Homo sapiens: one gene and its partner. Changing the gene in region 1 together with any one later gene gives a genetic interaction. Each region holds a gene or a part of one and is shown in the gene's direction. Other genes may lie near its edges.

What was found. Genes that interact genetically often act in the same process or in processes that back each other up.
Region 2: changes in EDA (region 1) and RPS6KA2 together harm fitness less than expected from each alone (positive genetic interaction), as found in Homo sapiens cells (one large-scale study listed by BioGRID).

The regions. Positions count from the first base shown.
Region 1 is NC_000023.11:69,958,486-69,962,136, forward strand, and holds part of EDA (ectodysplasin-A), read left to right. Parts: intron 1-3,651. UniProt on the Homo sapiens protein: Cytokine which is involved in epithelial-mesenchymal signaling during morphogenesis of ectodermal organs. Functions as a ligand activating the DEATH-domain containing receptors EDAR and EDA2R. May also play a role in cell adhesion.
Region 2 is NC_000006.12:166,620,601-166,624,251, reverse strand, and holds part of RPS6KA2 (ribosomal protein S6 kinase alpha-2), read left to right. Parts: intron 1-3,651. UniProt on the Homo sapiens protein: Serine/threonine-protein kinase that acts downstream of ERK (MAPK1/ERK2 and MAPK3/ERK1) signaling and mediates mitogenic and stress-induced activation of transcription factors, regulates translation, and mediates cellular proliferation, survival, and differentiation.

The DNA.
Region 1 (3,651 bases):
AGAGCTCAGAACAAGGACCCCATAATAATACCAAAAAAAAAAAAAAAAAGAGCCAGAGCAGTAAGATAGGGTTTTCTAGTCAGTGGAGGTGGCAGCAGCATTGAGCCTTTGAATGGAGAACTGGACCAGTGGGGCCATTCTCTAGAGAAGTCATTTTGCATACAATTGATGACCAATTCAAGCCTAAGAAATGCAGTCCATGTAGTAAAAGTTACCCATTATTCACCTACTACTTGTAGCCAGTTTCCCAGAAGTCTTCTGGCTATGTGGAAGCAGGGAGCTAAGAAGCATGGACCCTTTCCTCTCCTAATCATCTCACCCTCTGATACATGTAAGTCTCTCCACCTTCAGCTTTTCCCCTGAGGCTACTCCCACAACCATCAAACTTTTCATAATCCCTGGTTGCAAAGGAAGAGAGGAGACAGGTGGTAAGAGCAATATCACCTTCTATAGTGGGCGTGGTCTTCCCTCCCTCTCTGAGTGGTAAGTCTAATGGCTTCTAAGGTTTACCTCTTCATCTAACCTCCGAAGTTTTCTCTTAAAGAAAATAATTTCCTCCTTTCCCTAAAACTACTTTATCCAAATTCAGCTACCAACGTCTCTGATACCGATCTTCCTTAGAATGTTTATTCTGTCCTAATACAAAACAGTTTTCTCTCTGGTCAAGGTCAAAGCCTCTCATTAATTTTTAGCACTTCTTATATACTTCCCTCCTGATCTGATACTCTAGTCAGTCACTAGACTCTAGTCTCTTGGTGCCAATGCCAAGTTTCTCATGCAGTCCAGGCATTTTTCTTTAATCAGTATAGCTTGGAGGAATCCAAGAGTCCCTTAGAGTTAGGAGTATAGAATGCCTGGGGGTCCTTGAATTTTATTAGATTTCCAACTTTTCACCTGGTGGTCTGTAGAACCATTTCTTTAGATGTGGCAGATGCTCCAATGAGTTAAAGAGTGGTAAGTCAATCCAAATCTCCTTTTCCTTTGAACCATTCTTGTTACTCTGATGAGCGTATACTATATTTATTCAATACACTCATCAAATATTTACTAAGTAAATACAGCAGTTTATATAGTACTTGAATAAACATTCAATAAGGATTTTTTTTAATATTCCCACTGCCTAGAAACAGACTTGGCACCTAGTAGACCCTCAATAAATATGTCCTGTTGCCCTCAAAGTGATTTACTTCCAGCATAAAGAGGCAGACAATAAATAAAGTTGGTTAAATTTGATAAGTGGTATGAAGAAAAATATAGCTGAGCAACAGGGAGAGAGAGTGATGGGGTATGCTGTAAGATGATCAAGGAAGGTACTCTGATAAGGGAACATTTGGGAAGAGACCTGAATGAAATGAAGTAAGAGCTATGCAAATGTCTGGGGAAAAAAGAAGCAGAAAATTCAAAGGCTCTGAAGCAGAAGAATGTTTGGTATGTTCCAGAAAGATCAGTGTGGCTGGGAGCAGAGTAAGAAGAGGAAGAGGGAAGGAGATGAGTTAAGAAAGCAAAATCCAATCTAGAGCCTTGTTGGCCAAGGTAAGGACTCTGGCTTTTATTCTGCATGAAATGGAGGACCACTGGAGGATTTTGAGCAGAGGAATGACAGGATCTGATGTATGTTTTAACAGCATTCCTCTGGCTGCTGTATTGAAAATAGGTGCAGGAAGAAAGGATACAAGCAGGAAGAATCTTTAGGAGAGTATTACAATAATCCAGGCAAGAGATGATGGTGGCTTAGACCAGGATGGAAGCAGTGTGGGTGGGGAGAAGTGGTCAGATTTTAGAGAGATTTTGAAGGAATGGCTGAAGGATTTTTCAGATTGATTAGATAAGGGATATGACAGACAGAGAAGAGGCATCAGTGACCCCAGGGTTTTGGACTTCAGGAACTAAACAGGTAGAATTGCCATTTCTGAGATGAGGAAGCAAAGGAGAGAAGCAGTGTAGAGGAATATGGGGAAAGAGTTTAGTTAGGCTTGTTAAATTTGAGGTAGCTATTAAACAGCCAAGTGGATATATAAGTCTACACTAAACATCACTGTGTATCATGAAAATAAGATGACTCTCTTTTGTACAAAGGACTTGTCATTGAAGAAGTGAGTCAGTCTGGAAACTGCTCTGAACAGAATAAGAGGTAGGATGGGATAGGTAAATCATAGTGGGGTGAGTTATGGCCAAAAAAAAAATCTTATCAGGTGTTGATTATAAATTCACAAATTACTTGATATGTTATAATAAAAATTTAACTATCTAAGCTCAGGTTTGCCTCACAAGTGTCAAAGAACAAGTCATTTACCTTGAAGAGTTAAGAACATGGCAGAAGTTCGTGACCAGCCTGGGCAACATGGTGAAACCCCGTCTCTACCAAAAATACAAAAAAAAAAAAAATAGCGGGGCACTGTGGCACACACCTGTAGTCCCAGCTACTCAGGAGGCTGAGGTAGGAGAATTGCTTGAGCCCAAGAGGCAGAGGTTGCAGTGAGCCAAGATCGTGCCACTGCACTTCAGCCTAGGCAACAGAGTGAAACTCCATCCAAAAAAAGAAAAAAAAAGAAAGAAAGAAAGAAAGAAAAAGAAAGTCTAGACCCTACTTCATTTGTTTGGTCATTCATCATTTAACAAATGTTTTTTACAGGTGCCCGCCACAACACCCAGCTAATTTTTGTATTTTTAGTAGAGACTGGGTTTCACTATGTTGGCCAGGCTGGTCTCGAACTGCTGACGTTGAGTGATCCGCCCACCTCAGCCTCCCAAAGTGCTGGGATTACAGGGGTAAGCCACTGCATCCAGCCTAGACTTTCTTTCTAGGAACTATAGATATTAAGCTTAATGATCTCCACAAATCCCTGTGAGAGAAAAAAATTTTTATAAACAGTTCATTAACTCTTGGAAACGGAAGGGATGTAGTGATCCTTAGGAGCTGCATAGGTTCACCAAGAACAAATCAGGCTGCAGAAGCCTATTTTCCTGTTTTCATCAGACTATTAAACTAGTTGATTAGAGGCATAGCATACACATAGTCTATCTTGCCTTTTAAAAAGAAAGTCAGTGGCAATATCCAGGGTATATACAATCTTTCTGACTCACCATTCAAGAATGACTAGGTTCATCTCAGTTTCTCCATTCAAATTACTTTATAAATGAAAGCATTGGCTAGCTAAGCAGGAGTCTCAAACACATGGTTAGTTTCAACTCTTAGAAAAGAAGTGAATTTCGTTTTCTTTACTACATTTCTTCCTTGAATTCACTGACTTGAGTTGGCCAGAAGTATTTCAGATCGTTTAAGTTTATTCGTACTAATTATGTGAGGCCTTTGGTTGTTGTTCTTCTTCAAAGAAAGTATGATACCTTCACTGTGGGTGTTGAGTCACAACAGTTCTAGAAATCTGTGCCAGGATTTCTTGCTGTGTCTTATCTTTGTGATGTGTTTCTGAAGTAATAATAGCTCCAGGTGGCTTGTTTGGTCATCTCTTGCACAGCACTCCAGAAATCCACAGAACTTTATTTTCTAGTTAGAATGAAATGTAGAATGTATTTGGGAGGTCATGAGGCCTTAGAATCAGGTAAAATGAATCCAGAATTCCCAAGGAGGTAGTTTCCATATTTCACAAATATTATTGTAAAAACATCTGTTCTCTTCCGATAGGAGCATTT
Region 2 (3,651 bases), on another chromosome or scaffold:
CTTTGAAAATTTTTGTTATTTGAAATTCAAAGTCTAGTGACATAAACAGGAAATTAATGTAGTTACTTTAAGTTGAAAACAATATCTTCATTTAAAAGGCTTTCAGAGAGAGACTCAGTCCTAATGTTTTCATACTTGATTTTATTTATTTTCATTTTTTATTTTTTTAAATAATGAGAAATTTCTAAAGTTCCTTCTTTTTTTTCCTCTCTTTTACATTTATGCTTGGCAAAACTTCTCTGAACATACTTGATTTTAAAATAAATTTTACGTCCATAACCCAACATTTGCTAAACCCTAAGTGACAGAGAAGTCAGGTTACTTAATCATATTTGGAAACAGTTTATTAATTACAGATTAAAATGAAATTCACTGAATATTTTTGTCCTCTATCAGCATAGAACCAAGTGAGATGGCCAAGTTGTTGACTCTGGCAACTATAATTTTGGGGGTTTCTAGAGGAAAACTGGGTATCTTCCATAGACTTCCATGGGTGTGCCCCAGAAAGGTGTCAGGTCTCAGTGACCGCAAGACCCTCATCCCCAAGAGAGCTCTGCTTTCAGGGCATTGACAGTATTGCCTAAGAACCACGACACATTGCTGGGCAGAGTAACCTGCATCTCATTCAACAGTCCACTTCATAGATGAGGAAAGGGGACACTGGCCCATTTGCTAAGCTGGAGTTACCGTCACCTGGCTGGGATAGGATACCCTCTGAGTGTCTGGCCTATGAGTCACTGCACTTATCTACAAAATACGTTACCCATGCCAGTTGCCTAATGAGCTAAGGTGGCTTTGAGAGCAAGGAAATGCACCACCCTCACCGTCCTAACTTAGCAGAACCATAGGTCCACTGAGCTGAAAGGAATCTTCTCCCCACTCAACCTTTCCACACGCCAGTAGAGCCTCAGAAGATGGGATGTGGAACCTCCAAAGCTTAGTTTGTATTTCTTCCAACAGGGAATGTACATTTAAACTAATTAAAAGTGAGATTATTAACTCAAGACTTCCACCAACTTGCTAAAGGTGTCAATATGCAAAGTCATTTCATTTAGGAAGCAGTTATTAGTTTGGAGTTACCAAAGCCAGAGGGTTCTCTTTGGTGACCTATTATTTGAGCTATTTCAGCTGTAACTGGCATTTCTCCTGAAAGACAGTAGGGAGTGAATGAGGAAGACAAAATGCGAGACTCTACCTGGGATATTGCTAGTGATGAACTGCTGAGTGGAAGGAGAATTTCGTTTTATTTATCTATTTGCTCAATTGTTCATACACTCAAAAGATTTTAGCACATACTGTGTGCATTGTGCTAAGCAACTGGGACATAAAAATAGGATCCCTGCCCTCAGTGAGCTTAATGTCTAACAATAGAGGCAAACAAGTCAAAAGAAGCTTGCTATCAGGGTATAAGTGCTGTGAAATTATTGGCAGCTTTGGATTTAAATGGTCTGATTAGATCAATTGTCAATTTATTTCTATTTCTGGTGGTCACAGATCATCAGAATTCATCTATCTGTACATATAAAGACATTTTAATTGCTCATCCCTTTTAAGGAAAACATGGTATCCTAATAAAGGAAGTGTGAAGGGACTCTTAGCAAGCATCAGGAACAATATTGGCTCCAGTCATGGATAAAAAGAAAGCTTCCTGGAAAGTTTACCACTAAGGCTTATTCTTGGGGCATGATAGGTGAGCTCTTCTTCTAGATCTTGGGTGGTTTCCAAGAAAACCATTTCTAATTAAGATAATTTTCAGGTACTCTCAATAAATGCTCCCAAAGAAATTATGTTTATCTTAATTTTATTGGATTTTCTGACAGCCAAAAAAAAACCACAATAAATAGTCCATATTAGTGAATACTGAATTGGAATTTGTTCTTCTTTTTGCTCCTTTATATACTCATTTTAAAGACATTAAGCTTAATTCCTTATTTGTGGTCACAATTTCTGTGATATGCCTTATGCTTGGAATTTCATTACATACTTTCTCTCTTTACGTTCAGGAAAAATCCCCGAAATAGTGTTGTTGTTTTTTTAAACGATGTGAAAAGACAACTAAACGTAGTGAGATTTTGCCCCTTTTGCTTTGCCCGTCCTTTTCCGTAAACCCACGTGCTGACTGTCTTTGGCCACACCCAGCACAGCAAAGACTGTTCAGACTATTTTTCATGCATTCAGAAGTAGAAGAATGAAGTGGAAGCCCATTAAATAAAAAAGGAACTATGTTCACATCCTCTGACTTACCATTTACCTGGAATTTCATTCTGTTTCTCACATGTGGGGCAAATAGTTTCTCAGAAGTGGCAATTTAATAGTGGGTGGGAGAAGTATGAACTCTCTGAGGCAGCTTCCAGGGCTGCTGGCTGTGAAGGGGAAGGGGAGGAAAGAGGCTTTAGGGCTGTAGCTTCAGGATGAAGGCAACGTTCGGGTCAACCAGAGATGTGTGCGGCCTTGGGGACCTTCAGGGAGCTGCCAGGAGAGTGCTCCTTTGATATGGGGGACCAGGATGAGTTTACTTTGTATGACGTGGAGTTGGTAACCAGTAACTTAGCCAGAAATACTCTACCTTTTTTGCTCCAAGGATCTGTGCTTATTAAATAAGCAGAGCTGGTCTAAGACTAGCAGCATTCTCTAGAATGCTCTGCTTTTATTTCTGATTACACTGAATTAGGTTGTGTTGCATTTTCTCAGCGTTTTATGTTTGCTGATATATTTTCACTAGTAAAAGCTATTACATTGAATTCAAATAAGTAAAAATTATCAACAAATAGGCTGTTAAGCTACAGTGTGATTTAATCAAGCAAATGGATCAGACACAAATATATTCCATATGAAATACTGTTAATCACATCTGACTTGCAGCTGCGTGAGAAGCCTTGCCTGCTAACTGCTTAGCTAGGGGAAAATAATGGTGCAGCTACAAGGAAGCCGGAGGCACCTGCATATCAGGGCGTGGAGGACAAATGTGCGTAACCATACACCTAGGATTTATTACCAAGCAGGCCAGAAGCAGTGTTTCCGACCAGCCAAGATGTGTACCTGTTGTTATGCAGTCATTTGCATATGTTATGCAGTCATTTGCATGCGTTCCTGGAGATCAGTCAGAGGGTGTTCCCAAGAATGCTACTGATATGAGAGCCCTACCTGATTCCATTCGGCGAATGCTCCCTAGCCAGTCTTCCTCTATGAGCCTTGGTGTGCAAAGCTCCCCAGGCTGGGTGGTTTGCCCTTGCCTTGCCCCGTGGAGGTAGGATTCTGCAGGCATGGAGCAGGTGGTGTCCCTGTTTCCCTCCTGCCCCTGCTCGGTGCCAGTCTCCTGCCGTGGGAAGTGCCTGACCTTGCCGGCTGCCCCTTCTCCCAGCCACCTCACACTGCCCTAGTGTTCTTGCTGTCTCCCTTGCCAAACCACTGAATCCTTCTGAGCACCTGTCTCCCCAGCTACAAAATAGGGGTAACCCTGTAATAAGGGTTATCTGCAATTTATTAAATGCTTCATCAGTGAAATGTGCCTTGTCAGGACAGCTTGCACTTGGCATCCGTGGTGTTGCACAAAGCTGACTTTGGTGAGACCATATCTGTAAAGGTTCTTGCACTACATTATGGGGGAAAAATGTTTTTTCTCTCCTGCCAGCCTCTTTCCTTGCCCCTTTG